Linked DNA regions of Homo sapiens: region 2 is linked to region 1. Evidence: fine-mapped expression QTL. A gene starts in region 1. The other region holds a variant in brackets. All regions are shown on one strand. Distances are from middle to middle. Region 1 holds the start of NCSTN (nicastrin). Region 2 overlaps LOC105371466 (a long non-coding RNA gene).

Region 1 (2,910 bases):
ATTATGATATATAAGTACACTCAACAATGGATGTTTGCCCTCAAATATTATGACATCTTTGTTTTTCCTTCTGTACTGCCCAGCAAGAAATTAGGAGCAGAAAAGAAAACTGAAAGATTATGAAGACCCATTTCACATTTCACCTATACAGGTCTCAGAAATTCTTAATGGTACCCATCTTTCAAGGTCAAGTTTCCCAAGAGACTTAGAAACTGCTCAGAATATATTCACACATTGATAACAACCTCCAGTTTTTGAGCTACTGAGTCTACACCAGGCGCTGTAATAAATACACTCCATATACTTTCTCATTTTAATACTCTCTATAAAAGACGATTTTACAGATGAGGAAATACAGACTTAGAGACATTAAGTAAGTCATCCAAGTCACAGCTTGTTAGTGGATGTCTCAGGATTCCAAGGCAAGCCCATCTGACTTCAAAGACCAAGTTCCTAACCACTTTGTTACGCTGCATCTCACTAAATATTCTAGATACTATTTTTTCCAGGTCTTCGGAGACCTTACTTCTCTGACTTTCACATTCTAACGTTCTGAGGCTAATACTGCGATCTCAGTATTTGCCCTCCACCCCCAACGACCCACACTCGAGCTCTAGAGCTGCCGTACTTAGCAAATAAAAATACGAGATTTCCAGATAAATTTGAACTTCTGGTAAGCAACGACAGACTAAAAAACTATTCATTGTTTACCTGAAATTCAAATTTAACTGGGTATCCTGCATTTTATCTGGCAACTCTATCAAGTTGAGACTTTATTGGGGTTATAAGCCTCAAGTACTATTTCCGGGTAGTAAATAAAGCCGAATGGAGGCACTGATGTTGAGATGCTGCAGCCAAGGCCTCCTTAAGTGAGGTTGCCACTACTCGTCTCCAAAAAGGCTACTGACTCGGGTGCGAGTAACAGAGATCGAGACTCAGTTCCCAGGGCCACTCCATATAACACAGTCATCAAAAAGCCAACAGATCACAGGGCCTTTGGAGCAGAACAACACAAATCGGGAGCACAGCCAAGAGAGAAAGGGGGAAGAAAGAATAGGGAGGGGGTCTAAGGAATCCCCTGCAGTGTGGGAGCCACTTTATAGGTAAATCGAAGCCCAAGGACACACCAAAGAAGAGGGGACTGGAGAACCGCTAGCCAGGCCCAACCTCTCTCCCACCCTCCGTCTTCCTCCGGGTCCGTCTGGTGGGCCCATTTCGACCAACACCTCTACCCATTTTCTCTTCCCCGGTGTCAGCGCCGCTCCTGACATCCAACCTCCATGTTCCCCCTTTTATTCTCCACTACCTTTGACCCGCGCGCTCTTGGTCTCGAATTTGGTTAACATCTCTCAGGTCTCCGACTCCGATGTCTTAATCCGAGCCCCGACACACCCTGCTGCCCTTCGGACGCCTCCACGTCAGCGACCCTCTCCCGCGGTTTCCGGAAGCGCCTGGAAACACGAACTTCCGGTCTCTTAGGCTCCGGGCCACAGAGACGGTGTCAGTGGTAGCCTAGAGAGGCCGCTAACAGACAGGAGCCGAACGGGGGCTTCCGCTCAGCAGAGAGGCAAGATGGCTACGGCAGGGGGTGGCTCTGGGGCTGACCCGGGAAGTCGGGGTCTCCTTCGCCTTCTGTCTTTCTGCGTCCTACTAGCAGGTGAGGCCTCCCCGCCCGTGAGCTCCGTTCTCTAAGGGGAACTCTCGGATCGGCCCCGCCGCGACCGCCACTGTCTCCCTTCTGGTTCCTGCTGCCCCTCTGTCCCCCCACCCTGTAAATCCTCTTTCTTTTTCGTTCCCACGACAGAAGTTCCCCCTTTGCCTGGACCTGAAGGTCCCTTCTCCCCCGCAGCACGTCGTGTCGCTTCACTCCCTTCTCTAGGCCTCTTCCTGGACTTCGAGCCTGACCCTCTCCCACTTTGTCCAGATGTCTCGTTTTTCCCACAACCCCAGCCACCCACCCCACAGTCGAAAGGAACAGGTGTGAAAGTTAGCTTTCTTCCTCGCGTTTAGACTTTTTGAGACGAAAGCAATCTTGTTCTGTGGGTGCTGTGCGGCGCTTAAAAGGTGGATTTCTTATTTCTTCCTCTGTTGATTACATCCTAAGTCTGTGTCCCCCTGCCTTGCCTCAGGTTTTTTTTTTTTTTTTTTTTTTAATCAGTAAAGCAAGAATAAGGTAGGATATGGGTACTCTTAACTGTGAAGACCCTGAAGTAACAATTCAAGGAACTTTTGGCATTTATAATGTACTTAAGTGTTTGCTGATACGCGTTCATTTACTGATACATGGCTTTTTAGTTGGTCAAGCCCTAAAATGCAAATGCCTGTATATAACTATGACTGTGCCTTCCCCCAATTCACATTGTTTTTAAGGATCCTCAAAGGAGAAACTACAGCTGCCCCACACTGTGGGCACACAAATGACCTGCTGATGTTAAATTAACTGACCCGTGTATGTCATAAGGTTTCTCTCAATTCTGTTCACACTCTTGGAAAAATGCCTCAGAAAGTTTTCTTAGCCCAGCACCTGTGTATTAACCAATTAGTAATATACATACAGGATATACAAGCAGAAGTGTGATCACCTGTGCAACCAGAATCTGGCAAATCTAAGGTCAAACACCTTTCCTTTGACCAAGTTTTCTCTCTTTTAGTGTCACTGTCAATGGCGCTACATGGACTTTGTAATAACCCTTTGAGGCACATAGCTGGGTGCCATGTAGAACATGTATCTGTTACGATAAGTGTGTGCCCAAGAAATCAGAAGAATGGACTTTAATCTCATTTTAGAAAGTATGATATTAAATGATTTACCCAAGCCATACTTCAGGTTAATGACACGATAGAAGCTAGTACCTGTGTCTCTCAAATTTTTCTAACACTTTTTATCTTCCGATCAGGTTTGTGCAGGGG
Region 2 (2,910 bases), 35 kb after region 1:
GCTCAGAGCCTTGATTCGCTCTAACCTGGGACTCTTGGGCCTCCCAAGCAGGGTCTCCAGTGTGGTTCCCAAGTGAGAATCTCTACTGTCTATGTCCCTTTTATCCTTTCTAGCATTAAACTCCAGCCTCCTTCTTTTATAAGCTTGTAGCTACCTCTTTCATTGGTTGATTTCAATTTATTCAGTGCAGCATGCCTTTATGGAATAGCCAATGTATACCGGGCACTGTTCTGGATTCTGAAATACAGGATCAGGCCCTCCCCACCACCTACTTGGGAGGGAGTATGGGAGACAGGCATGTAAACATATCAGTTTCCCAACAGTGAGAGGCATCTGCAAGGAAGCGAGTGATTACCTGAGAGAGGGTGTTGGTGAGGAAGGCAGCCGGTAAACTCTGAGCTGGGTTTTGAAGACCATGAGATACGTACAGTGAATTCTGTGGTGTGCTCCACTCACTTCTCCAGCTGTGGAAGTGTTGACTCACAGCTGAGTCCCTCTCCAGGAATTGCCTTTGGAGGAAGAAAGCCGCCTTGCCTGAGGTGTTGCTCTTTCCCTAGGGCAATGACTGGTTGATGTGGGGTTACAAAGTTATCCCAGCTTGAGAGCCCCCATGGGATGGACAGAAGCCTCTGTTGCCATTGCATTGCTTTTCAGTTTCTCTCTCGGCTTATTGCAGCTTCCCTCACACCTCACAGGTGTTCTCAAGAACTCTCCTGCTGGCACTCTCCTGTATACGATCTCAGAGTTCAGGAATCCACTTCCCAGGGAACCCCACCTACAAAGGAAAGGCACTGTAGGTATGAAGGCATGGAACCCTGAGAAGCTCTGGTGAGCAAGAGCACACTATTAGCAGTGTGGTATTGTTGGGACATTAAGTGCAAGGGGCTGGTGGGACAGGAAAGTGACGGAATGGTCTGGAGAGGTAAGCAGGGGCCAGGTCAGGAGAAGCATAATAGGGAGTGTGTGCTTGGCCACACAGTGATGGGAAACCAATGAACATTCTCTAGTGGGGTAGATAAACACTATCATCAGATGTACACTTTAGAAATATCACTTTCAGAACATTTCTTTCTTTCTTTCTTTCTTTCTTTCTTTTTTTTTTTTTTAAGAGAGAGTCTTGCTCTGTCACCCAGGCTGGAGTGCAGTGGTGCAATCTCGGTTCACTGTAACCTCTGCCTCTGGGTTCAAGTCATTCTCCTGCCTCAGCCTCCTAAGTAGCTGGGATTATAGGTGTGCACCAACACACCCGGCTAATTTTTTATTTATTTATTTTTTGAGATGGAGTCTTGCTCTGTCGCCAGGCTGAAGTACAGTGGGGTGATCTTGGCTCACTGCAATCACCGTCTCCTGGGTTCAAGCAATTCCCCTGCCTCAGCCTCTCAAGTAGCTGGGAGCACAGGCGGGCACCACCACGCCCGACTAATTTTTTGTACTTTAGTAGAGACGGGGTTTCACCCTGTTGGGCCAGGCTGGTCTCGATCTCCTGACCTCAAATGATCTGCCTGCCTCGGCCTCCCAAAGTGCTGGGATTAGAGGTGAGAGCCACCACGCCTGGCCACTTTTAGGACATTTCTGATCATAGCTGCGTAAAGGTAAGCTCTGTGCAGGGAACAGTTTTAGGAGGCTATCGCAAAGTCAGCTGCAAGAAGCTGAGGGTCTGTATTTAGGTAGCGGCAGTAGGAATGGGGAAGGGAGGACAGATTTAGGAAGCTATTTAAATGGTAGATTCAACAGGATGTCGTGATTCATTAAATGTGGCAGGCTAGAGGAGAACTCCCAGGTTTCTGGCCTGGGAGCCTGGGTG[T/C]ACAGTGGTGCTACTTTCCAAAGTAGCACACGTAGGAAGAGGAACGTTGTGGAGAATTGTGGTGGAGATGGTGGCAGTAAGGTGGTGTAATAAGGACAAACTGAATGAAAGCCCCCCAGGAGCCTTCCCGTGGAGCTGCCCAGAAGGAAGTTGGCTTTCTGGGTTTGTAGCTGAAAAGTTGTACCTCTTTACTAGGATATCTCCCAGGAATGTCCAACGCCACATGTTGCAAACTGGCCACCTTATCTTCTCCCCTCTTCAACCCTCCTCCTCTCCTGGTATCCCCACGGCAAAACATGGTATCATCAACATTCAGTTGCCGTGACTATTGCTACATGTTTTTCCCTCTAGTCTCACCTCCAATCCATCATCAGTAGCTATTCATTTTACCTCCTAAACATGACTTCTGTTTTTCTACCAGTTCTACCAATGCTTTTCTTCACCTGGACTATTGCGGTGGCCTAGCTAGTCTCCCTGCCTTTCGGCTTCCTCCCCGTAGGTCCACCCTTCAGGCTGCCCTCAGACTTAGCTACCCAAAATGCAAACTGAACCAGGACACTTCTACACTATCCTTTTAATGATTCCCCATTATTTCCCCAGGATAAAACCCAAGTTCTTCAACATGGTATGAAAGTCCCTTCACAGTGCAGCTCCTGCCAGTTTGTCCAGCCCCATCGGCCATTCTGTCCTTTGTACTTTTTGCTCTAACAATTCGAAGGCACTCAAAGCTCTCTGGCACAGTCCATGTTACTCCTGACTGCCGTTCCTTTGCTCCCGTTGTTCCTCCTCCTGTACTTCACCTATACGAGTCCTATTCATCCTTCAAGACAATGCAGATGTCCTTGCCTTCAGAAAAGTACCCCAACTTGGTGTGTCTCTCCTATAGCCCCAGCTTGGCTCCTGGTGTGCTCCCTGGTCTTTCTATGCATATCTCTATCATTGCACTCACCACATTGAACTTTACTGAAATCATCTATCTGCTAGCACATGGATTTCAGTGTGACCTGGGGTGAGTTACTTCAAATCTCTGAACATGTTTTCTTTTTTTTGTTTGTTTGTTTCTTTGTTTGTTGTTTTGAGACAGAGTCTCCCTCTGTCACTCAGGC

What was found. PIP is the estimated chance that this variant, and not a neighbour inherited with it, causes the effect.
Region 2: its variant is fine-mapped to the expression of NCSTN in whole blood (INTERVAL, PIP 0.98).

What each region holds. Positions count from the first base shown.
Region 1 is chr1:160,341,825-160,344,734 of GRCh38, forward strand. It overlaps NCSTN (nicastrin), which reads left to right and starts at 1,559. Exons shown (of 17, transcript NM_015331.3): 1 at 1,559-1,657; 2 at 2,898-2,910. The coding sequence starts at 1,573. It overlaps COPA (coat protein complex I subunit alpha), which reads right to left and starts at 1,426. Exons shown (of 33, transcript NM_004371.4): 1 at 1,307-1,426. The coding sequence starts at 1,346. RefSeq lists enhancers at 1,359-2,306, 1,579-1,628.
Region 2 is chr1:160,377,286-160,380,195 of GRCh38, forward strand. LOC105371466 (a long non-coding RNA gene) reads right to left here. Exons shown (of 4, transcript XR_007066686.1): 4 at 130-775. Among named protein-coding and RNA genes, the nearest start is that of NHLH1, 12 kb to the left of the region's middle. The variant T/C (reference allele first, on the strand shown) is at 1,805.